Homo sapiens: one gene and its partners. The protein of the gene in region 5 purifies or fractionates together with the protein of the main gene of each other region. This does not show direct contact. Each region holds a gene or a part of one and is shown on either strand. Other genes may lie near its edges. The genes, in order: MAGED2, NISCH, ATP1A1, ATP2A2, SPRTN, SPTLC1 and CAD.

What was found.
Region 1: the proteins of SPRTN (region 5) and MAGED2 purify together in Homo sapiens (affinity purification with mass spectrometry, with the first as the bait; 2 studies listed by BioGRID). This does not show direct contact.
Region 2: the proteins of SPRTN (region 5) and NISCH purify together in Homo sapiens (affinity purification with mass spectrometry; 2 studies listed by BioGRID and IntAct, with this or other methods). This does not show direct contact.
Region 3: the proteins of SPRTN (region 5) and ATP1A1 purify together in Homo sapiens (affinity purification with mass spectrometry, with the first as the bait; 2 studies listed by BioGRID). This does not show direct contact.
Region 4: the proteins of SPRTN (region 5) and ATP2A2 purify together in Homo sapiens (affinity purification with mass spectrometry, with the first as the bait; 2 studies listed by BioGRID). This does not show direct contact.
Region 6: the proteins of SPRTN (region 5) and SPTLC1 purify together in Homo sapiens (affinity purification with mass spectrometry, with the first as the bait; one study listed by BioGRID). This does not show direct contact.
Region 7: the proteins of SPRTN (region 5) and CAD purify together in Homo sapiens (affinity purification with mass spectrometry, with the first as the bait; 2 studies listed by BioGRID). This does not show direct contact.

The regions. Positions count from the first base shown.
Region 1 is NC_000023.11:54,813,630-54,816,515, forward strand, and holds the end of MAGED2 (melanoma-associated antigen D2), read left to right. Parts: intron 1-740; exon of another isoform or gene 741-871; intron 872-1,031; coding exon 1,032-1,146; intron 1,147-1,618; coding exon 1,619-2,053; 3' UTR 2,054-2,061; intron 2,062-2,251; 3' UTR 2,252-2,386; downstream 2,387-2,886. UniProt on the Homo sapiens protein: Regulates the expression, localization to the plasma membrane and function of the sodium chloride cotransporters SLC12A1 and SLC12A3, two key components of salt reabsorption in the distal renal tubule.
Region 2 is NC_000003.12:52,476,104-52,479,603, reverse strand, and holds part of NISCH (nischarin), read right to left. Parts: intron 3,158-3,500; coding exon 3,005-3,157; intron 2,031-3,004; coding exon 1,962-2,030; intron 1,508-1,961; coding exon 1,322-1,507; intron 1,156-1,321; coding exon 1,027-1,155; intron 1-1,026. UniProt on the Homo sapiens protein: Acts either as the functional imidazoline-1 receptor (I1R) candidate or as a membrane-associated mediator of the I1R signaling.
Region 3 is NC_000001.11:116,393,744-116,397,243, reverse strand, and holds part of ATP1A1 (sodium/potassium-transporting ATPase subunit alpha-1), read right to left. Parts: intron 2,135-3,500; coding exon 1,959-2,134; intron 647-1,958; coding exon 510-646; intron 1-509. UniProt on the Homo sapiens protein: This is the catalytic component of the active enzyme, which catalyzes the hydrolysis of ATP coupled with the exchange of sodium and potassium ions across the plasma membrane.
Region 4 is NC_000012.12:110,329,747-110,333,246, reverse strand, and holds part of ATP2A2 (sarcoplasmic/endoplasmic reticulum calcium ATPase 2), read right to left. Parts: intron 651-3,500; coding exon 562-650; intron 67-561; coding exon 1-66.
Region 5 is NC_000001.11:231,344,793-231,348,292, forward strand, and holds part of SPRTN (DNA-dependent metalloprotease SPRTN), read left to right. Parts: intron 1-3,004; coding exon 3,005-3,133; intron 3,134-3,500. UniProt on the Homo sapiens protein: DNA-dependent metalloendopeptidase that mediates the proteolytic cleavage of covalent DNA-protein cross-links (DPCs) during DNA synthesis, thereby playing a key role in maintaining genomic integrity.
Region 6 is NC_000009.12:92,108,914-92,112,413, reverse strand, and holds part of SPTLC1 (serine palmitoyltransferase 1), read left to right. Parts: intron 1-3,500. UniProt on the Homo sapiens protein: Component of the serine palmitoyltransferase multisubunit enzyme (SPT) that catalyzes the initial and rate-limiting step in sphingolipid biosynthesis by condensing L-serine and activated acyl-CoA (most commonly palmitoyl-CoA) to form long-chain bases.
Region 7 is NC_000002.12:27,230,869-27,234,368, reverse strand, and holds part of CAD (multifunctional protein CAD), read right to left. Parts: intron 2,902-3,500; coding exon 2,789-2,901; intron 2,390-2,788; coding exon 2,145-2,389; intron 1,922-2,144; coding exon 1,675-1,921; intron 1,328-1,674; coding exon 1,229-1,327; intron 1,058-1,228; coding exon 833-1,057; intron 744-832; coding exon 561-743; intron 362-560; coding exon 143-361; intron 1-142. UniProt on the Homo sapiens protein: Multifunctional protein that encodes the first 3 enzymatic activities of the de novo pyrimidine pathway: carbamoylphosphate synthetase (CPSase; EC 6.3.5.5), aspartate transcarbamylase (ATCase; EC 2.1.3.2) and dihydroorotase (DHOase; EC 3.5.2.3).

The DNA of each region.
Region 1 (2,886 bases), on a different chromosome or scaffold from region 5:
GATGCATGTGTCTATGTGTGTATGTATTTGCATATTTGCATGTATGCAGGTGGGATTATTCCTTGGGCGGTGATGGGAAACAGGAGCAGCACATGTTTCCTGATCTGTTACATATACCTCAACATTTGTCTTGAGACCAGTTCTGCAAGGGAGGGATTATCATTACCATCATTGTACGTATGCAGAAACTGAGGTTTAGAGAGGTGAAGTCATTTGGTCAGGGTTACACAGGTAGCAAGTAGAAGAGTTATGTTTAGAACTTGGCTCCAAAGCCTTAGTTCTTTTTATTCTGCTAACTAGAGCTTCATAGAAATTAATTTCCGTAAAGAAATGACATAGAATGGTAGCTTCAGGCAACCAGGTACCATGCTGGGGAGTTGACTTGTACATCTCATTTCATTTTCATAACTACCCTGCAGCTGTCATCCCATCCCCGTTTTACAGTTGAGGGACCTGGGGCTCCGAGAAGGGAGATCTGAGCATGGCCCACAGCTGGTATGGGCCTGGAGCCCAGTCCTCTTGAATTTCTGGCCAAAGCTCACCTATCCTTGGTCCTTGGAGGACATGCAAACACTCACACAGCCACACGCATGTGCACACAGAAACACACACAAAGGGTCAGGAATTCAGCATGTGTGAAGCATGCTGCTATTGGCTGTTCTTCCTCTGTAGTCTTTCTGGTCATTTTCTGTGGTGGACCTTTCTGGGCTTGGCCAGGCTGAGGCCAAGACACTTGCAGTGGGGTGTGCTCAGAGCAGGGGGCCCAAAGAATGGCTCCTCTGTTTACAACACACCCAACAGGAATCTGGGGTCATTGTGATGAGGGCGTCAAACTTGTGGCTTCCCTATGAACAAACGTCCCCCAACACCTCTATGTGGCTTCTGGGCAAGACCAGTGGGACAGGGCTCAATATTGGAAGAAAGACTGTAGTAATTAGTGGATGATGTTGCCATCTGGAGCCTGTCCAGTCTATGCATGGGTAGGCCATGAATGGTCTTAGAAATAAAGGCTTTGAACCTCTCTTTCCAAGGTACCTGGACTATGCCAGAGTCCCCAATAGCAATCCCCCTGAATATGAGTTCTTCTGGGGCCTGCGCTCTTACTATGAGACCAGCAAGATGAAAGTCCTCAAGTTTGCCTGCAAGGTAATTGGAGAGCTCCTTGAGCTTGGCAAGTCAAGAGCATGGGGTGCCCCTGGCTGGGGCAGGCTGTGTGCAGAGCAGCCTGCAGTTCAAATCTGAATGTTTTGGTGCTTCTGTTAATTGTCAAAACACTGTAACAGGCACTTTATCTGAATCATTTAAGCCTTACAACCTGATATGTCATTGCCCTGTTACAGATGAGAAAACCGAGGCCCAGAAAGGTTGGTAGGTGACATGTCCAAAGTCATGGGGCTAGGAAGTGTCAGAGCAGGGATGGAATATTAGGTGCATAATTACTGGTAATACTGTATTATTACTATTATCTTTTTATACTAAGCATGTAGCATAGTGCCTAGCATAAAGGTAGATGCTTAATCCTCTTATGCTCCTTCTGATGGTTATTTACATAGTAATACTGTATTATTACTATGGCTTAATCCCTCTATGCTCCTTCTGATGGTTATTTTTGTTTCAGGTACAAAAGAAGGATCCCAAGGAATGGGCAGCTCAGTACCGAGAGGCGATGGAAGCGGATTTGAAGGCTGCAGCTGAGGCTGCAGCTGAAGCCAAGGCTAGGGCCGAGATTAGAGCTCGAATGGGCATTGGGCTCGGCTCGGAGAATGCTGCCGGGCCCTGCAACTGGGACGAAGCTGATATCGGACCCTGGGCCAAAGCCCGGATCCAGGCGGGAGCAGAAGCTAAAGCCAAAGCCCAAGAGAGTGGCAGTGCCAGCACTGGTGCCAGTACCAGTACCAATAACAGTGCCAGTGCCAGTGCCAGCACCAGTGGTGGCTTCAGTGCTGGTGCCAGCCTGACCGCCACTCTCACATTTGGGCTCTTCGCTGGCCTTGGTGGAGCTGGTGCCAGCACCAGTGGCAGCTCTGGTGCCTGTGGTTTCTCCTACAAGTGAGATTTTAGGTATCTGCCTTGGTTTCAGTGGGGACATCTGGGGCTTATGGGGCTGGGATGAGGAGCTGGATGATTCTAGGAAGGCCCAAGTTGGAGAATGATGTGGAGAGTGTGCCAAGACACTGCTTTTGGCATTTTATTCCTTTCTGTTTGCTGGATGTCAATTGACCCTTTTATTTTCTCTTACTTGTGTTTTCAGATATTGTTAATCCTGCCAGTCTTTCTCTTCAAGCCAGGGTGCATCCTCAGAAACCTACTCAACACAGCACTCTAGGCAGCCACTATCAATCAATTGAAGTTGACACTCTGCATTAAATCTATTTGCCATTTCTGAGTTTATTGCTTTTTTTGGCGGGCTGTCACATTTTGGTATCACATTTAAAAATCAGTGAGTTGGGAAAGTTTCCACCTCAGTCTGTGTTTAGTTTGAGGTGATATTGTTGGATTCCCAGGAGCGAGATTAACACACCTTTCTGGGATAGATTGGGCCTCACGTCTAATTGTTGGATTCCCAGGAGCGAGATTAACACACCTTTCTGGGATAGATTGGGCATCACGTCTAGCCTTCAGGGTGGTGGGATTTTAGTGGGGTGGAGTTCAAGAGATTGTAGTTACAGAGGACACACTTTGAAGGAGAGGCTTGAGGTCGGCAAGTCTAGAGCAGAAAGTGTAAGTAGAGGAGACTGGACATCAAATATAGAATCCCTTTTTGAGAAATTTGAATGAGGAGAGAGAGGGGTACAGAGCTAAATGGAGATACAGGAACAAGGGAGCATTTTCTTGGGGAAGGAGAGAGAGACTTGAGTAGGGAGGAGTCAACGGAGAGGGAGAAGT
Region 2 (3,500 bases), on a different chromosome or scaffold from region 5:
GTGGGCCAGGCCACGTGAGGACACCATAGGCTGAGGGAGGCTCAGCCTGCTCAGAGGCGGCTCTTCACTACTCATGGAAGTGACCTGGGAATGCCTTGGAGGGGTCCAGGGAGGTCTCACATCTGTCTCTGGAGTCCCTCACCAAGAACAGGAGGCAGCAAGCTCTTGGGCAGCTGGGACTAGGGTAAGGGGGCAACTTGAACTAAGCCCCCAGTTAGAGGTGGGAGGCAGACTCTCAAAAGAGCGATGGGAGAGCCTCCTGGGTAGGGGAACCAGCGGCAGGAGAGGGCAGGGCCCCCGCCTGCAAATGTGGGAGGGAGTGGTGGCTGGCAGGCAGTGGGGGGTTGGGTAGGGTGGTTGAATGAGGGAAGGTCCCAAGGGCCTGGACAGGAGCTGACACTCTGTGGCCTGGGAGCTTCCCAAAGTCTGCAGCCCAGGAGGGGAGGAGATGGCATCTCATGGTCTTGTGACTGTGTGGAGGAAGGGGCACTTGCGGCCACAAAGAGGGAGGTGGGACACAAATAGACTTCCAGGTATTTTCTGACCTGGGATTTTGGGAGAACAGAAGGTCCAAGGACCAATCAGAGCATCACGGGGACTGCTCCAGGCCCAGGCGATGGGTGAACCTGGTTAAGGGTGTCTGGTCAGCATCGTGGCAGGTGCACAGACACCGCGAGGGGCAGCAGACACCAGGCTGGGCTACACTGGCAAAGGCAAACCCTTTGGGTTTACAGTCAGGCACTATGGCCACAGGTTGTCCAGGAGATATGAATATTTTAAGGATCTTATTTCTGACCCTTTCCTAGAATAAACAATGTTATCCCAGACAGTAGGGGCAGGAGATGCAAGGGAGCTTTTTCCTGGGGAGATAGTGGACTTCCCAGAACTGAAAAGCCCCTAAGGGACAGGACCTCTTTCTGAAGCAGGCAAGGGTAGAACAATGGACATATATCCCCCTACCGCCCATGCAGACTTGACTGCATCCCGAAGGTCTCCCTGGGCTCTTCTGACTGTGCTGGGGCTCACCTCTGAGGCCCTCTCTCCGAACTGAGCCAGCACCTTGGTCCGGTAGTCGGGGATGATGCTCAGAGGGTTGTTCAGCAGAGACACGTGCTCCAGACACGGGAGGCTGCCTATGCTCCGGACCTCCTCCATCTGCAAGGTATGAGTTCCATCCCCTTTGGTCCCTTCTCTTAACACTTCAGCAACACGCCAACACGTTTCATGGTCTCTTTTAAATGAAAGGAATCTTAACATTCTTCTTTAACATGATACACACCAAGGCACAGAAATCCCAAAACTGTGAGGTCCTTGGGCTCACCTGTTCGATCCTGTTGTCCCGGAGATCCAGGTTGACCAGTGAGTAGAGCTTGTGCAGGCCACTCAGACTCTCTAGGAGGTTGCCTGCCAGGTTTAAGGTCTTGATGTTCCCCAGCTTGGTGTGAAGCCCTTCCAAGGAGGAGAGCTTGTTGTAGGACAGGTCCAGATGCACAAGGTTATACAGGTGCTGCAGCGGCGTGGAGAACAGCGTAAAGTGGCTCAGGTCAAGTCTCCAAAGATAGGGGCCTGACACTAATGGCAGGATGGGCCTTCCAACCCAAACTACCCAGTTCTGCAAGTCACTCTGACAGTTATTTTAGGAAGGGAAGTCCCTCTTCTCTGCCGCACATGCCACAGCACAGTGGCACCCCTGCAGACAGTTGGGGTGGGCGTTGAAAACATGGCTGTCCACCTTCAGGACGGAGGTGCATCATCATGCCTGGTTTGTATTTACTCATGCTTCCTAATTCTTTGGAACTAGAGCAACAATCACTCAGTGCATTGCTGGGATCCTAAAGCGAAGACAGCAACCCCTGCCCTTACAACCCCTGGCCAATTCCCAAGGCTGCGTCAGTCTCCTGAAATCTCAGGGCGGGGCCTTGGGAGTGTGTGCGGGCAGCACTGGTCTCCAAAGGCACTACCTGCAGATTGTCCACAACCAGCAATCCATTGTGACTCAGGTCCAGGAACTCAATCTTTGGGATCAGTTTCTTGTGAAAGAAAAGAACACCCGATGTTACTGTAGGGGGCTGGACCCCAAACACGGTCCCCGACACAGTGGACGGGCACCCCAGGACGCTTCCTCCCGACCATGGACTCCCACGGGCCGTCCCTGCAGGACCACTGGTGGGACATCTCCCGCTGCCCAGCCAGTAGCACATCCAAAGGCACACACAGGGCCCCCAGTGCTGGGCACTACTCAGTTTTCATGGAACACTTGGCTTGTGAAAATGACACACAGCAAGGTCCCAGACAGAGAAGAGAGTCTGTTCTTCTTCAACCCTGCCCACACTCCCTGAGCAGCGCAAACACGGGAACGACACTCTTACTGCCCAAATGCCCTCTGGGTGTCATTCTTTCATGGGCACATCTGTCATCTAAGGAGTGATTTTTCTGCTCCACTCTTTGGAGCAAATGTCATCATTTAGTGTGTTATAGTTTACCAAATTTACATGAAATTATTATGTTTTATTTGGTTCTAAGTACTACCTCACCAATTTTAAATGATCCCATTTTTTTTTCTTCTTTTGAGACGGAGTCTCACTCTGTCGCCCAGGCTGGAATGCAGTGGCCCTATCTCAGCTCACTGCAACATCCGCCTCCCGGGTTCAAGCGATTCTCCTGCCTAAGCCTCCCAAAGTAGCTGGGATTACAGGTGTGCACCACCACACCCAGCTAATTTTTGTATTTTTAGTAGAGATGGGGTTTCACCACATTGGTCAGGCTGGTCTCGAACTCCTGACCTCAAGTGATCCTCCCGCCTCGGCCTCCCAAAGTGCTGGGATTACAGGTGTGACCCACCACGCCCAGCCCCCATTTTGTAATTAACTTAAAATGGCAGGCAATGCACAGAGCACTAGATATAGGTTTTCCGTGGTCCTTCCTAAAAAAGCTGAGTTAAATACTCAAACTCAGGGTTTGGTGGGGCCAGAGAAACCCCTGGCACCTGCTGCTGAGAGCATACCACAGACTCGTCGATCTCGGAGACGCTGTTGTGGCTCAGGTCAAGCGTGGTCAATGCCTGCCAAGTGGGGATGACGGCAGTCACAGGGCCTTCTAGGGTTGTGCCTTCAGGCTCCCACTCATCAAATTCTGAGGCTTCAGGAACAAGGACTTCCTGCATAAAAACATCTGTGTGGAGCACCACACTCGGGCCCTCACGCAACACTCACTGGGAACACAGTCGTTGCAGAATTTAAGGAAGGGCTGGAGCATATTTAGCATGTGGAAGTAAACTTGCATTAAAGCATGCCTTTGGTTCCTATGTCTTTAAACGATTGTGAAATCGTTCAAAGCTGAACAATTTACCACATAACAGCCACTTAGAATTAAGTCCTGGCCCTGCTTTAGGAGCAATGCTTTTCAAGCCCAAAGGGCCTTTGCCCTGGTGACCTGGTGATGCCTTTTCTAGCCTTTTCTCTTTTTTGAGATGGAGTCTCGCTCTGTCACCCAGGCTGGAG
Region 3 (3,500 bases), about 110 Mb from region 5:
AACCTTAAAACAAAACCAATTTGCTATTATCTGTTTTACTTCATTGCCAAATGTCTCCTGTGTTTGCCTGAATGGCCTAAGTAATTGTCCCTTCCTTATTTTATTTTGTTAGTGTGGACCTGGAAAGTGTCAAGATGCTAGGTGCTAGGCAGTAGAGCTCAGTGGTTAACAGCATGAAATCAGAAGCTAGACTGCTGAATTTACTGCATGATTTCACCAGTTCTGAGGTACTTCAAAAGCCTCTTGAATCCTTACCTTCCCTGCTCTGCAAATAATAGGTCACCATATCAAGCTCTTAGAACAGTAAATACCATCTAAGTGCTAATTATTATGACTTGCTCTTACTTAAAACCCTTCTTAGGAATGACAAGGTTGCTTTCTGGCAGTGCAGGTACATTTCCTACTCAGAGCAAGCCTAGATGCAAACCATTATAGAACCACGCTGAAGATTTTAAACCATCACTATTTGCTTGTTCACAGCAGACTGTGATTTGAGCTTCCTGCCTTACCTGGGGTTCACCTGGCTGACTGGGATGTTGAGGCGGGCAGCAATGTCTTCCACGGTCTCATTGCCTTCTGAGATGATGCCCACACCTTTGGCAATAGCTTTAGCTGTGATTGGATGGTCTCCTGTGACCATGATGACCTGTAATAAACAAGACAATGTGTTGAATGCAACTGCCAAGTAAATGACCTTAAAGTCTTATATCCAGTAGGCAAGAGTAAATACTAAGGATGATTCGGCTTAGACTATCAAAAGGAAAGGAATGCAAATATAAAACTAATAAACATCGATTAGCCAAAAATATAAACATATATATCCACAGAAAGGAAACACAAAGGCAATACTCAGGTTTTATCTTGGTATACAATCACTAGCATACACAATGTCTATTTTTCCTTCTACAGAGTTACATAAAAATACTTGAAAATTACTAAAACCAGCAAAAAAAAAAAAAAAAAAAAAGGATAAAAATCTGATGCTGGTGGGACTGTGAAGACACCACATGCTACTGGCTAGCATTCTCAAATTGGCACAACTTGGAGGAAAAGCAACATGTGACAAGAATTCAAAATTGTTATTTTTTGATGCAGTGATTATACTTAGAATATACTTTAAAAAGAAGCAGTCGGAATGGTGAGGAAATAACTTCTACAAAGCTTTTCAGGGCAGTATTAATCCTGAGAGTAGGCCGGGTGTGGTGGCTCACGCTTGTAACCCCAGCACTTTGGGAGGCTGAGGTGGGCAGATCACCTGAGGTCAGGAGTTTGAGACCAGCCTGGCCAACGTGGCGAAACCCTATCTTTACTTAAAAATACAAAAATTAGCTGGGCGTGGTAGCGGGTGCCTGTAATTCCAGCTACTTGGGAGGCTGGGGCAGGAGAATTGCTTGAACCTGGGAGGCGGAGGTTGCAGTGAGCCGAGATCGTGCTATGACATTCCAGCCTGGGCAATAGAGCAAGACTCTGTCTCAAAAAATAAATAAAATAAAATCCTGAGAGTAAAAAACAGAAACCAAATACCCAGCAACAGGATATTAGTGCACTTGAGTAATATTCAGCTACTTAAAAAAAGACAGATACACAGAGGACACCAAACACTCATTAACAAACAGTTAACTGAAAACACAGAAGATATGCCATTCATTGCATAAGGTACATTAACTTAGAATAATGCAAGTATTTTAAAACTTCAAGTCTTTTGCTGTTTTTACTTTGCTTACATTTCTTTTTTACACAATTGCTTTCCAAAAAATTTTTAATTCCTCGTGTGTTTACACCATCATATTTTAATACTATCTGGTCTTTTCTGGGTGGAAGTAAAGCTTTGGAGATGAGAAATTAATACTCCAGGTGAGATAGAACAGCTGGCCATCTGGACCTCAAAAGGCAACATTCACTGAGTAGGGTGTCCCAAGGCACTAAGAGATGAAGCCAAGGAGGCGCCTGGGCACTACCTTAATTCCAGCACTTCGACATTTGCCCACGGCATCAGGAACGGCCGCCCGTGGAGGGTCAATCATGGAGATGAGCCCAACAAAGCACAGATTATCGATAGGGAAATTCACATCGTCAGTGTCAAACTGGAACCCTTCAGGAAACTGTTCATCTGGCAGAAAGAGGTGGCAGAAACCTGCGAGGAGGACAGGAGCCTTTGAAAATTTCAGTGACGCTGGGCAGTAAGAAGGACAACAGCAGCCTATTCAGCCCGCCTACCTTTCTCTGGAGTGTTTACTTTGGAAAATTTTTAAAGTCTATATTTTTATAACAGAGTGAGGGTTTTATTTAACATTTATGAACGATAGAGTCACTGAAAGAAAAAAAGCATTTGAAAGACAGAATCCATCACACCAGGCCTCAAAGGAATTGGAAATTGTTTAATGTGGAGAAGACTGAATTGATAACACTAATTTTGAGCACCAGGATATTAGGGTTCTAGACTTGCCCACTGATGATGACATTAAGTTATTTGGATTTGGCAAATCATGGAATTATCTGCCTCAGCTGCCTTCTCTGGAAACATCAAGGCCATACCTCTGCTCTCTTGTTCATTTAACTGAAACATATTACTGAGCACCAATGTGGGACATCATGCTAGCTACTTTTGAGGATAAGTACAGATCAGATGCATTCTGCCCAGGGGGTTTATCATCTAGTATAGTAAATACAAGAATCAAGATAATGTAAGACATTCTTTTCAATGTTGTATGACGTTACAATGATCTTTAACGTGCCATGTGGACTCAAAAGAAGAGAGACTGCTTCCACTTTGGGGTGGTGGAAGTAGGGAAGTGAAAAACACTTAAAGAGAAGATAGCAATCCTTCGGTTGGATAGACACATACGAAAGATACCATGAGTTAGATTTACCCAAGTTAAGAAGAATAGGAAGCATTATATAAATAATGAATGTAGTATCTGTCAACCTACAAAGTATTATAAATGCCACTTTCCCAAATACATTAGACAATGGGTAAAGTGAACTTCTCAGCCTCAGTAGCTGTCAGGGTAGAAAAAAATAGGTAGCATCTTAGACTAAAAGTTTACCGTTAGTCTAGTTTCTAAGCTGAGCACATAAGTGCTCATGTAAATTCACACCCATTCCAAGGCAGTCAGGAAATAGTATGTCTAACTTAGACACACTAAGAATTAATTAACTTTAATTAGGCTTATAAGTCATGTCCACAGCAACAAAGGTTAGATAAGAAAGATATTCTTCCACCATTTTTTTTTTTAAACAAACAGAACTGACTAGCATGAGACCAAAGGTCTAAGTACAAGTCAGAAGCAAACCATCAGGACGTTGTTTCTCACAGCCCAATACGCTGAACATTTCTTCAGCACTTATTGTTTTCAAAATAATAGGGGGCAAATAAACAAATAGGAGGATTGCCCCTAAAAGATGTAGAGGAAGGTCAACAAGACATAGAGGTTCATAGGATCACTTGTTAACTGTCTACCAGACTAGGTTACTGGATAAAAACGTGCCCAGGCACTCTG
Region 4 (3,500 bases), on a different chromosome or scaffold from region 5:
CAAATTGTTGCTAATTCTACCAGACCATCATACTGGTGACAATTCACTGGTTTATCATCTTTATGCCTGCCCAAAGAGAAAACACTCTTAGAGCAGGGTATGGTCGCCACTATTGATTCCTCCCGCCCCCTGCCCCCCCGCAATTGTTTAATAATGAAAACAGAATTTCTGGGACAACATACTGGAAAAAATTCCAAACAATTTGATGCCAGAGCCAATATTAGACAAAAACAAAAGAGAGAATGCATCTCTGGTATCAGAAATCAATCAGTAAAAAGACCAGAAATTCTTAATTCAATTCTTCCACCACTGGCTACAGTGAATAACAAACACAAATCCCTCTTGAAAGTTTGGAGCCCAGAAGATGCAAAAAGATGACTGGATTATAACCTTTGGTTCATCTTTCAAAGTTTTTGTTTTAAAAACATTTACTACTTTAGTAATAAGTGTTGACTTGAGCCACATTCAGAAAGCTGTCTTAACTTTGTAGACATGCTGCAAATCAATACAAATACTAAACTGCCACACCAGATCCTTTAAATGAGGAGGAGGGTTACTCACACTTCTCCAATAGGTGCATAAGTTGATCCAGTTATGGTAAACTCATTAAGGGAACAAGTATCACCTTCCACTCTGTCCAGAATGAACATCTGTAGGGGGAGAGCGCATCAGAGTATTTAAAAGGGATTTTTAAAAAATGCTACACAAATAAACTACCTTTGTTAGCTTAGGACAAAGGCAAACAACCTCTTTCATTTACGAAAACAACTTTAATAAAACTCACTGAGGCTCACTCAGCATCAGCAGTACTGTCCCTTACCCTAACTAGCTTAATTATATTAGACTGCTTCGCCCATCACACCCCCGACCAATCGAACAGTATGAAAAACAGCATCACTGAGGTGCTGAATGAATGAGCAGCAGTGGCACCAAAGACACAACAACCCACACAAAATCCAAGTTATGAGGACTCCCGGTCAGCAAAAGGTCAGTTCCAGAGACAAGTTACTCTTTAGATTGCTCAGAATCCCAAATTTCAAATGGCTGGCTGTGAGAGTGGTATTAGGTAGTCCTGCCTTAGAGCTAAGCACAAAAGCTTGGGAAGAATAAACTCACATTTCAGAGTTGCATAAACATTTCCCGAGTAAAATAAGACAAACTGCTTCTCTGCTCCTTCCCACTTATTTTTATTGTGGCAATAGCTCATGTTCTATGAAGCTGCATAACTATATGTATACAGTAAGGAGCCCGCAGAGCTGAATGAATTGATGTTCCCTAGACAATACAGATGGAAGCATGCTTAGGAAAGGATTAATTTTATTTTTTAAAGCGACATAAGCTATTTTCTTAAAGATAATTTTTCCACTGCTTGATTTGCATTCACAAATTATAATTCAGAAGCCCAGTTTGGAAAAGTAAGATTTAGGCTTGTGTTTTCATTGCAAATGAAAACTTGTAAAACCTCCTCTAAAAAGAAAAAATTACAGAAAGTGATGTCAAAACTATATTTTCTCGTGCTTTCTCTGAAATATGAGCAATTAATAATCTGATCAAATCATTCTCTAAGGGGAATTTAAAAAATGTAAAACTCAAGTTAAACAGGCCACGTTGAGCTGGGCACGGTGGCTCACGCCTATAATCCCAGCACTGAGAGGCCAAGGTGAGTAGATCATGAGGACAGGAGCTCAAGATCAGCCTGGCAAAGATGGTGAAACCCGTCTCTACTAAAAATATAACAAATTAGCCGGGCGTGGTGGTGGGCACCTGTAATCCCAGCTACTCAGGAGGTTGAGGGAGAGAAGTGCTTGAACCCGGGAGGCAGAGGTTGCAGTGGGCTGAGATTGCGCCACTGCACTCTAGCCTGGGCGACAGAGCAAAACTCCGTAATAACAGCAACAACAAAGCTATGTTGTGTTTTAAAAACACATCTTTTCAGAGCAATTCATCTCACATTCAATAAGGAAATTAGTTAATCTTTATTTTAAAATAACTTTTTTTTTTTTTTGAGGTGGAGTTTCACTCTGTCGCCTAGGCTGGGTGGACTGCAATGGCACGACTCGGCTCACTGCAACCTCCGCCTCCCGGGTTCAAGTGATTCTCCTGCCTCAGCCTCCCAAAGAAATTATAGGCGCCTGCCAACATGCCCAGCTAATTTTTGTAATATTAGTAGAGACGAGGTTTCACCATGTTAGTCAGGCTGGTCTCGAACTCCTGACCTCAGGTGATCCGCCCGCCTCGGCCTCCCAAAGTGCTGAAATAACAGGCGTGAACCACTGTGCCCAGCCAAAAATGTGAAATTCTTTGAGTCTATACCAAAGCCCAAAATATTCTAAAAGACATTCAGAATCTGAATCTACATTAGCTAAATCTAAATGTACTTAGACATTTTTGACTGTGAGCAAGTCAACCATTTAGGATATGCAGGATGAAAATCTTCCTAAGTCAAGGGCAGTTATGCAATACCACTGCAAGAAGCCTCCTGCAGAATACCAATTAGCACCAGCTTCCTGTTGTGAGGTAGAGCTTCACTCAGAACAGGCAGGCTTTTTCTTTATTATAAGAAAACATTTTAAGCCAAGCCATTCAAGGGAGAAAAGAACAAAAAAAAATTATAGTGAACTGGGAAACTGAAATTTTAAAAATTACAATTTTACACATGGCTTTACACATGGCTTACTTTCACAGACATAAAGACTATTCTGAGGAATTAAAGCTTTCAGGCTAAGTGAGACACAAAATCGTAAATAAGAAAATTCCCTTTCTCTTCCTGAAACAACCAGTATGACAAAACTGACTTTTAGCCAATTCATCCAACCTTTTGGTTCCAAAAAATAAGAACTTAAGTAGCTCAAACACCTTAATATCCTGGAGAAACCTAAGACAAACCTAGAAGCTTTCCACTTTGAAAGTTGGAACACCCCAGTTCTGTCAATTCTAAATGTGGGTTTGGACTTCACAAGGAGCTTGCGGGGGAGGGAGAACCTGTATCTAAAAAATCATCATGAGCTTAAAATTGGCAAGATAAAAATTCACAGGGCTTAACTGATTATAAAACAATTTCCGATGTTAAAAATAATTATCTAAAACCTGACAAAAAGGCCAAGATAACTACACCCTTTCAATATCATACAGAAGCATTATTTAACAAGCCCATTCTAGGAAAATGTAACACTGTGTTACTAAATAAATGCTCATGTTATATGAGGTTTCCCTGTAAGACATTAGTTTTGTAATCTAACCTAGCAATCCCTATTCTAATATTCTAATATTGAACACTTCCTCAAATACAGATTCCCTTGCTAATTAATGAGCCGAATAAAATATGTGACAAATGTCTACTCTGTATGAGTCATGTGTACCTTTTGGAATAGACTTGTACCAAGTTGTTTAAGCAAAACCTAAGGAAAGTGAATTATACAAAATAATCCAGCTGTATAATTATTGCATTATTTATTCAGTTGTTACTTTTCTAACAGCAGGTTTAAATTATTTATTTTATC
Region 5 (3,500 bases):
AAATGCTTTTGTTAATTTTGCACAGAAACTTGTGCATCTTTGGTGTGGAATGAGCAGTAGGTTTTAGTGTTTGTTTCAAGTTTTCATGATTTCTGAATCAAAACCCAAAAGCTGTAGAAAGCTATACACAAAGATGTCTTGTTCAGTGTCCTCCTCTATCTTGAACTCCTTACTTGCTGTAGGAGCTGTTAGTTTCTTTTCATTTTTCTGTTTTGCAAATATTTCTATTCATTTTTATTCCTCCTCCCCACCATACAAAATTTTTCTTACACAAAATACTATGTACATTCTTCTGTACTTTGTCTTTTTCTTTTTCTTTTCTTTTCTTTTCTTTCTTTCTTTCTTTGTTTCTTTCTTTTTTTTTTGTTGCCCAGGCTGGAGTGCAATGGCATGATCTCGGCTCACTGCAACCTCTGCCTCCCAGGTTCAGGTGATTCTCCTGCCTCTGCCTCAGCCTCCCGAGTAGCTGGGATTACAGGCGCCCGCCACCATGCCTGGCTAATTTTTGTGTGTTTAGTAGAGACGGGGTTTTACCATGTGGGCCAGGCTGGTCTTGAACTCCTGACCTCAGGTGATCCACCTGCCTCGGCCTCCCAAAGTGCGGGGATTACAGGCATGAGCCACTGTGCCCAGCCCCCTGTCTTTTTCATTAATACGCTCTATAGCTTTCTCCAAACCATTTCATGTAGATCCTTCTCATTCTTTTTTGTGGCTGCATAGAATTCCATTATATGGATGTATAAAACACTGGAGTTATTTCTAATCTTTTGCTGTTATAAGCAGTGTCACAGTGAATACACCTTGTGCATATGACCTTGCATGCTAGTCTAGGTATTGCTCTCTCAGAAGACAAATGCATTTGTAATTTTGTTAGATGCTACCAAATTTTCCATAGGAGAATTGCACTCCCACCAGCAGTATATAGGAATGTTTATTTTCCCTTAGCTTTACTAATGGTGTCAAACTTTAGGAGTTTTACCAATCTTGATAAGCAATAAATAACATCCTAGTGTAGTGTTGGGTTTTTGTGGGGGTTTTTTGTTTTTTGAGACAGGGTCTTGCTGGGTTGTCCAGGCTGGAGGTAATCATAGCTCACTGCAACCTTGAATTCATGGCCTCAAGTGATCCTCCCATCTCCGCCTCCTGAGTAGCTAGGACTACAGATGCACAAGCTAATTGTTTTATTTTTATTTTTATTTTTTTGTAGAGACAAGGTCTCACTATGTTGACCAGGCTGGTTTTGAACTCCTGGCCTCGAGCAATCCTCCCACCTCAGCCTCCCAAAGTGCTGGGATTACAGACATGAGCCACCACGCCTGACCATCCTAGTGTAGTATTAATTCGCATTTCTCTTTTTATAAATAAAGTTGGGCATTTTTTCTTTTCTTTTCTTTTTTTTTTTTTTTTTTTTTTTTGAGATGGAGTCTTGGTCTGTCATCAGGCTGGAGTGCAGTGGTGCATTCTCGGCTCACTGCAACCTCTGCCTCCCAGGTTCAAGCAATTCCCCTGCCTCAGCCTCCTGAGTATACTGCTCGGACTACAGGCGGGCGCAACTATGCCCAGCCAAAATTTTTTTTTTTTTTTTTTGTATTTTAGTAGAGACAGGGTTTCACCATGTTGAGCAGGATGGTCTCAATGTCCTGACCTCGTGATCCGGAAGTTGGGCGTTTTTTCATTTGTTTGTGGGTCATTTATACTTCTTCTGTGAACTCCATGGTCTTTGCCCATTTTGAAATTGGGTTGTCATTCCCTGTTGACATTAGGAGCTCCTTGTATATTAGGAATAGCCTGTGATAAGAGTTATACATATATTTTTCTGAGTTTGTCTTTTTACTTGGTGTTTTTTTCCTATAGAATTTTAAAGTTTTGTCTGGGTGCAGTGGCTGACGCCTATAATCCCAGCACTTTGGGAGGCTGAGGCGGGCAGATTGCTTGAGGTCAGGAGTTTAAGACCATCCTTGCCAATATGGCCAAACCCCATCTCTACTAAAATACAAAAATTAGCCAGGCATGGTGGTGCACACCTGTAGTGCCAGCTACTCAGGAGGCTGAGGCACGAGAATCACTTGGACCGAGGAGGCAGAGCTTGCAGTGAGGAGAGATTGAGCCACTGCACTCCAGCCTGGGCAACAGAGTAAGACCCTGTCTCAAAAAAAAAAGAATTTTAAAGTTTTTATGTAGTTGAATTCATTGATTTTTCTGGATTTTGATATATAGTCAAAAAGGTCTTCCTAGAACAGGGAGTTCTTAACCTGTGATTTTCAGAGCTTTAGATGTTACACAAATTTGAGTACCCCTTCTCTGAAATGCCTGGGACTAGAAGTGTCTTGGATTTCAGATTTATTTGGATTTTGGAATATTTGTGTTATTCTTACAGGTGGAGCATCCCAAATCTGAAAATCCGCAATGCTCCAATGAGCATTTCCTTTTGAGTGTCATGTCATTGCTCAAGAGTTTCTGATTTTGGAGCATTTTGGATTTTCAGAGTTGGGATGCTCAACTCATATGCAATATTTTGTGAATGAGTGCTTATATAATTTTTATAGAATGAGGTGGGTTTTTTGTTGTTGTTGTTTTGTTTTTGTGAGACAGTGTCTCATTCTGTCCCCCAGGCTGGAGTGCAGTGGCACAATCACAGCTCACTGCAGCGTCAACCTCCCCAGGCTCAGAGGATCCTCCCACCTCAGCCTCCTGAGTGTAGCTGGGATTACAGGCATGCACCACCACACCTGGCTAATTTTTGTATTTTTTTGTAGAGACAGGGTTTCGCCATGTTGCCCAGGTTGGTCTCCAACCCCTGGGCTCAAGTGACCCTCCCACCTTTGCCTCCCAAAGTGTTGGGATTACAGGTGTGAGCCACTGCACCCGGCCTAGAATGAGTTTTATCAGTTCTGAAGGAAGCCTGTGATACAGAAAAGGTTAGACACCAGATAGAATAAGAAAATTTATATTTTCCAAAGTGTCATACAGACTCTAAAACTAATTTGAATATTTTATGTTCCAGACCCTCCTGCATGAAATGATACATGCCTATTTATTTGTCACTAATAACGACAAAGACCGAGAAGGGCATGGTCCAGAATTTTGTAAACATATGCATCGCATCAACAGCCTGACTGGAGCCAATATAACGGTATAGAAAGCCATATCTATTTATGATGTTTAGTAGTTGTTTATTCAATAACTCCTGAGATTTAATTAAAAGTAGAGAACTAGGTAGAAACAAGTATCTTTGAGGATTTTCCACAGCGAACGAGAGGCCTAGAGAAGCAAATTGGCTTGTCTGGGACTACATGGTGGAATGGCAGCAGAGCCAGTGATATCCCTGAGGCCTCTGACCTCTTCTGAGTCAACATTTTACACACAGGTAATTCAGGCCTGCAGTACGTCACTTCTGGAATCATCATGATCTCTTAACTTTGTTTCCTTATTATTGTCTTTTTTAGTCCATCCTGTATCCTGCTACCATTGCAGATGTCATTCCCTCATCAGAATTCTTC
Region 6 (3,500 bases), on a different chromosome or scaffold from region 5:
TATAGTTGCTATGTCTTTCCAGAAAGGATTTGTGGTGGCTCAACCATGTGTGTTAAAGCATTTTCTGTAATGTAAGGAAATCAAGGGGAATGAATTATTAGGGTAGGCAAAATATGGGGAAATCTAGAAATAAAGTCAGTACCCAAATGAAGACCATATTATGGTCTTGGATACTTTGCTAGGAGTAAACAGCAGTCTTGCAAATAGATGGTTAGAGGGAAGCATGGGCAACTACTGGAGTTTGAATATTCATAAGTGTTGTGTGAGTTGCTGCAGAATAGCACAACTATTTCTGAAGTATGGGATAAAGATTCCCCTGTGGTCTTCTTAAAGGAGAGTCAGAGTAGAAAAGAATCCTACTCATACCCATCTCAAATTGAATTTTTATGTGTATGGTAAATCAAAAAAGAATTCTGAGCATAGAAGTTAAATTTTCATAAATTGTCAAGTCACCCACAAAACTACATGGAAAAGAACCTCTAGCTCTAGTGATAAGGAAAGAGGCGAGGGTGGTTAGTGCACAAAACTCACAAGTGATTGTTTTTATTCTAGCCACAACGAGACATGGTATTTCTAGCAGTGTATTCACTGTGACTTTTGCATTGCAGCAGACAATTTTGATATTGCCGAAGTTGAAGTAAAGTGACTGCGCCTGAAAAGCTTCAGGGGGTTTGAATAAGGATAGCTATAATAACAAGTGCTATGTGGCTTACGGAGGAATGAGTGATAAGTGATTTTAAATCAGTTTGTCTTAGACAAATAGAGCTTGTTATAACTATTCCTCATAAGGATAGTATGAGGAAGGGGTAGGATATATATTCTATTAGGGGGCTGAGGATGAGGGTAAGTCATATGATACCGTAGCCTCCTAACTACTGAGCTGGCAATAGAGACTTCTATGTGGGCTTTAGGGAGTCATAGGTGAAGTTCGTATAGGGGTATTTTTACTATAAAAGCCATAATACATGCTAGTCATATAAGGTTGTTAGATCAGAAGTTTAATAGTTCTTGATTAGTAAACATTATTATTAGGATATTTAGTGAACCTGAGCTATTTCAGGTGTGGATGAGTGTAATAAGTAAGGGAAGGGATCCTACTAGTGTGTAAAATAAGTATGAGCTTGCATTAGGCATTCTGGTTGGTTACCTCAGCAGGTAATAATGATTAGGGTAGGGATGAGTGTAGCTTCGAAAAGAATGTAAAGTATGACTAGTTCTGTGGCTGTAAATGCTGTAATTTAAAAAAGTTGTAGGAAAATTAATTTGGAAATACGGAGTTTTTTTCCATAAGGGTGATTCATTAGATAGGTGATGTTGGCCTGCTAGGATTATAAGAGGTAGTAGTCAGGCTGTTTGGATTAGAAGAGGTGATGTTAATGCGTCAGAAGAAAAAGTTAATGAGAAGTTAGATGAATTATTGTTTGGTTGATTAAAAAATAATAGGGTAATGAGGCTGATGAATAGGCTATGAGTAGCTATATTCAGACTATAGAGTTTTTGGAGAGTTATATTGTAACAGTATAATTGTTGGAATAATAATTTTTGGCATTGGAGTAAATTTAGATTTTGTACATAGTCTAGGCCTTATGCGTTGGAGATTGAGACTAGGAAAGCAAGGCCTACTGCGGCTTTGCAGGCAGCAAATACTAAGAGGATAATGGGTATTATGAATCCTAGAGTGAAATGCATGTTTAAAATTATGAGTGTATTTATGATAAATATTGATAGTATGATGCCTTCTAGGCATAATAGAGATGGTATTAGGTGGGATCGATAGATTAGTACTCCCAGCAGTGCTATGGTATATGCTAATATAATGTTAATATAAATAAATGGCATTTGGTAAATATGGTCTATCATAATCTAATGAGTCGAAATCATTTAATTTAAACTATTTACCAGTTCAACTCAATCTAATCCTTTTTGGGTTCATTCATAAATTAGGCCTAGGATTAGAATGGTAATTAGTAGAAGGGTTGTACTGATTATTAGTATAAGGTTATTTGTTTGAAGGGCTCATGGCAGGGGTAGGAATAGGACGATTTCTAATCGAATAGGAGAAATGTGATGGCTACTAGAAAGAATTTTATGGAGAAGAGGAGGTGGGTAGAGGTTAATGGATCAAATCTACATTCATAAAGGCTGGATTTTTCTATGTAAGTATTAAGTTATGCAAGTCAAAATGTAATTACTACTAATAATAGAGTTAATAAAGTGTCAGTTATTAGGGCTAGTGCTAGGTTAATTACTCTTTTTCAGACTTTGTCGAAACTAGTTGATTGGAAGTCAGTGGTACTGCTTATACTAAAAGAGTAGTAGGACCCTCACCAGTAGATAGAGACACATGGGAATAGTCATACGACATCTACAAAGTGTCAATATCAAGTGGCGTCTTTAAAGCCAAAATGGTGGTTGGATGTAAAATGAATTTTTTTTTTTTGAGACAGAGTTTCGCTCTTGTTGCCCAGGCTGGAGTGCAATGGCGCAATCTTGCCTCACCGCAGCCTCCGCCTCCCAGGTTCAAGCGATTCTCCTGCCTCAGCCTTCCCGAGTAGCTGGGATTATAGGCATGTGCCACCACGCCCAGCAAATTTTGTATTTGTATTAGAGACGGGGTTTCTCCATGTTGGTCAGGCTGGTCTCGAACTCCCGACCTCAGGTGATGTGCCCACCTCGGCCTCCCAAAGTGCTGGGATTACAGGGATGAGCCACCATGCCCGGCCTAAAATGAAATTTTAATTGGCAGAGAAGGCAGATGGTGAGAATTGTTGATCCAATAGTAACATGAAGTCCATGAAAGCCTGTGACTATAAAGAATGTTGAGCTGTAGATTCCATCAGAGATAATAAAGGGGGCCTCGAAATATTCTGAGATTTGTGGAAGGGTGAAATAGACTCCTAAGAGGATTGTGGTAAGTAGTGCTTGAATTGTTTGTTTTTGGTTACCTTCTGTTAGGCTGTGATGGGCTCAAGTCACTGAAACTCCTGATGCAAGTAATATAGACGTATTTAGGAGAGGTGCTTCTGAAGGGTTCAGGGGAAGAATAGCTGTTGGGGGTCAATGTCCTCCTAATTCTGGGGTTGGTGCTAAACTGGAGTGATAGCATGCCCAGAAAAAACCGGCGAAGAAGGATACTTCTGAGATAATAGGAGCATCCTGTATCGGAGGCCTTTTTGGACAATTGCTGTGTGGTGGCCTTGGAATGTACTTTCTCGGACAATATCACGTCATCATTGATATATAGTCAGTGTGTTGGTTAGTAGGCCTAAAGTTAAAAGAGTGGTAGAATTAAAGTGAAATCCTATGGTTAGGCCAGATGTTATTAGGAGAGCCGAGAGAGCTCCTGTTAGTGGTCAAGGGCTAGGTACAACTCTATGGTAGGCATGTGTCTGGTGGGTCATTATGTATTATGCGAACAAAGACGTACTAATAGTGTGAAGACATAAGCTTGAATAAGAGTGACAGCGAACTTGAGAATAGTTAGTAGAATTAGAATAATA
Region 7 (3,500 bases), on a different chromosome or scaffold from region 5:
AGCTCTAGCTACAGCCCTTTCCCTCCAGCTTCCCTGCCTACTTGGATGAAGGCAGGAGACAGTGCAGGGCTTCATGGCACTGTGGCCAGCACAGAACATGCAAGAGCTGTGGCCCTTTAGTTCTTTCCTTTAGCCTTATTACCTTGGCAATGAGCTGCAGATTGAAGGGTCCTGTGACCTGTAGCTCCTGGCCCACAGCATGCACAATGGCTTTGATCCGCTCCAGGGTTTTGGCAGTGATATCTTGTGGGGGGGTCACCAGCGTCGCATCACCTGAATGCACACCTGCATTCTCCACATGCTCAGAGATGGCGATGGCTGCCACCACACCATCAGAGGCCACGGCATCCACGTCAATCTCCTAGCGGGGGGACACAGACAGTGGGACATAGGGCCACTTTCTTCTCTCACTTACTCTAGGATTGTCTCTTCCTTTAACGAGCCCCACATAGCCCACTGTTCCCAGCCCTGGTGCCTATGATTCTGCTGGACCAGAGAAGGAAGTCTCCTCCAGGGCTGGCAGCATGCCCTCAGAGACTTCACTGTCTGCAGCCTCCCACCTTAGCCTCCTGGATGAACTTGGAGATGACCACGGGATGCTCTTTGGAGACGGCTGCTGCGCTGCTCAGGAAGCGCTCCAGGTCTCCATCCGTGTAGGCCACATTCATAGCAGCACCGCTCAGCACATAGGAGGGGCGCACCACACAGGGGTACCCCACGGTCTGGCAGAATTGGCGAGCAGACTACAGGAGGCAGGGAGCTTAGCTGAGTTGTTCACACTTTCCCCCAAGCATCATCCAGCCTCCGGGTAACCCACCAGGTCCCAGCCCACCTCGAGGTCACTGAGCTCCCTCCACTGAGGCTGGCTGATACCAATGGTGTCAAGGAGCCGGGAAAACTTGAAACGGTTCTCAGCCGAGTCAATGGCTTCAGGGGAGGTGCCCAGCACCCGGCACTGCTGCCGATGCAACGCCATGGCCATGTTGTTGGGCAGCTGTCCACCCATGGATAGGATCACACCTTCAGGGTTCTCGAGCTCATAGATGTCCATCACCACCTACGTTGCAGGGGGAGAAACAAGTGGTGGCAGCAAAAGAGGGCAGGAATCTGAGCCTTCCTGCTCACTGCTTCCCTCAGCCGCCACCAAGTTTCAAAGAATCTTAGGTCAGCCAGCTGTTCTACTCGACCCTGGCCACTCAAGCTACCAGGAAGCCTCCATCTCCCTCACCTCAAAAGAGATCTCATCAAAGTAGAGTCGATCACACATGTCATAGTCGGTGCTGACTGTCTCTGGGTTATAGTTCACCATGATGGTCTTATATCCCATCTGCAAGAGGGAGGGGAAGGGTACTTAGCAGTCAGGTGGGAGGAAAATCGTGGAGAAAATCGTGGAGAAACTAAGCCAAAGCCCCTACTTCAGAGACTGCCAGCACAGCTTCCTCTGAAAGAGCTGTACAGGACCCCTGCCTTGGGAGGGAAGGAGGTACAAAGTGTTGGGGAAGAGATTCATATACCGTGTGGGGCATGAGAGATGGCCTAAAAGGACCCCCACCCCAAAGCTCTATGACCAAAGTAAGGGACGGCAATTAATAGGAAATGCCAGGATTAGTGCCAAGCAATTGCTAGAGATGAACAGAATAGCAAGGAAAGTGGAAAGAAAATGAACTCTCTGACCTTTCGGAGCTGCTGGATGCAGCCTACAGCACACCAGTCAAATTCAACGCTAGAGCCAATACGGTAGACGCCAGAGCCAAGGACTAGGACATGAGGTGTTCGAAAGGTGAGGTCATGGGTGGTGCCCCAATACGTTAGGTATAGGTAATTTGTCTGGGCTGGCCACTCAGCTGCAACTGTGTCAATCTGTTTCACTGCTGGACAGATCCCCAGTTCCTGACGCAGCTTGCGAACAGCCAGCTCTGTGCTAAAATAGAAAAAGGGTCTGAAACACAGGCCCAGAGAGTAGGGTACAGACTGATAGAGGGTTGAGACCCCAGGGCACAGATGAGAGGAAATATCCTTGGAACCAAGGTCAGAAGCCTCTAAAGCTCTCCCACACTCTCCTTCCTCCCTCCCAAGGGTCCCTCACTGATACAAAGGTTCTGCCCCACATTTCCCAGCCGGAAGCTCTCATTGCCACCTCTGACCTCAGAACTGCAAGGGCAATCTGTTTGTCTGAGAAGCCAAGACACTTGGCCTGTTGCAGCAGGTCTGGCGGCAAAGGCTGTCCACGGTGTTGTTCTAGCAGCTGGGCATGTGCGATGATACGCTTCATTCGGTGCAGGAACCAGCGGTCGATGCGTGTGAGCTCATACAGGCGGTCCACTGAATAACCAGCCCACAAAGCAGCTGCCACCACAAAAATCCGCTTATCTGTTGGAGTCTCCAACTCCTGATAGAAAGGGGGTAGACAGACGGAAGCTACTGCCAGCCCATCTAAAAGCCTGAGCGTAAGTAGCTGCTCTTGTCTCAGGAAGGGGAAACTGTACACCAGAGCACAGGCTGTGTAACTGCAAAAACCTGGATACCAATCCTGGGTCTACCTCTCATTGGCTATGTGGCTTTGAGTAATTTCTATAACCTATGTCTCAGTTTCCTCATCTGTAAAAACAAGTCTAGTAATACACCCTTGCGTGCTAATGAGACATCTCAAAATTCTCAGCAAAGTGGAAACAAAGCAAATGTCCAATGATGACTGCTGCTAGTGTTACTGGTAACAAGCTCATGGTCTGGGGGCGATGAGAAGCAGGGTCTATTTTAGGGGTATTGCCAGGGGAGGGGAGCTACTTACCATATCGCTGACTGGTTTCACTGTGTGATCAAAGCCCACACAGTTCTCATCCACCATGCGCAGGGCCTTCTGGAAGGCCTCCTCAAATGAACGCCCAATGCCCATGACTTCACCTGGAAGAACAGAATGGAAGGAATGAAGGTGTGGAGGTGGAAGGGGTGGGAAGAAGGCACTGCCCATAATGCTTATGGTTTATAGTCAAGACTCTGGGAGATTCTCAAGGCAAGTCACATGATGGTGGGATTCATGGTGTTTCACAACTAAGAAATCTTAATGGCCGGGCGCAGTGGCTCACGCCTGTAATCCCAGCACTTTGGGAGGCTGAGGCGGAAGGATCACGAGGTCAGGAGATCGAGACCATCCTGGCTAACATGGTGAAACCCCGTCTCTACTAAAAATACAAAAAAATTAGCCGGGAGTGGTGGCGGGCGCCTGTAGCCCCAGCTACTCCAGAGGCTGAGGCAGGAAAATGGCGTGAACCCGGGAGGTGGAGCTTGCAGTGAGCAGCGATCACACCATTGCACTCCAGCCCGGGGAACAAAGCGAGACTCCGTCTCAAACAAAACAAAACAAACAAACAAACAAAAAGAAATCTTAACTTATAGCTCTTTTCCCTGCTATTTTCATGGATAAGCTCAGGCTTTGTGCTTATTGATGAATATGGAATCAATATGCCTAAAACGGGCATGGGGATACTGGAATATATCCCCAT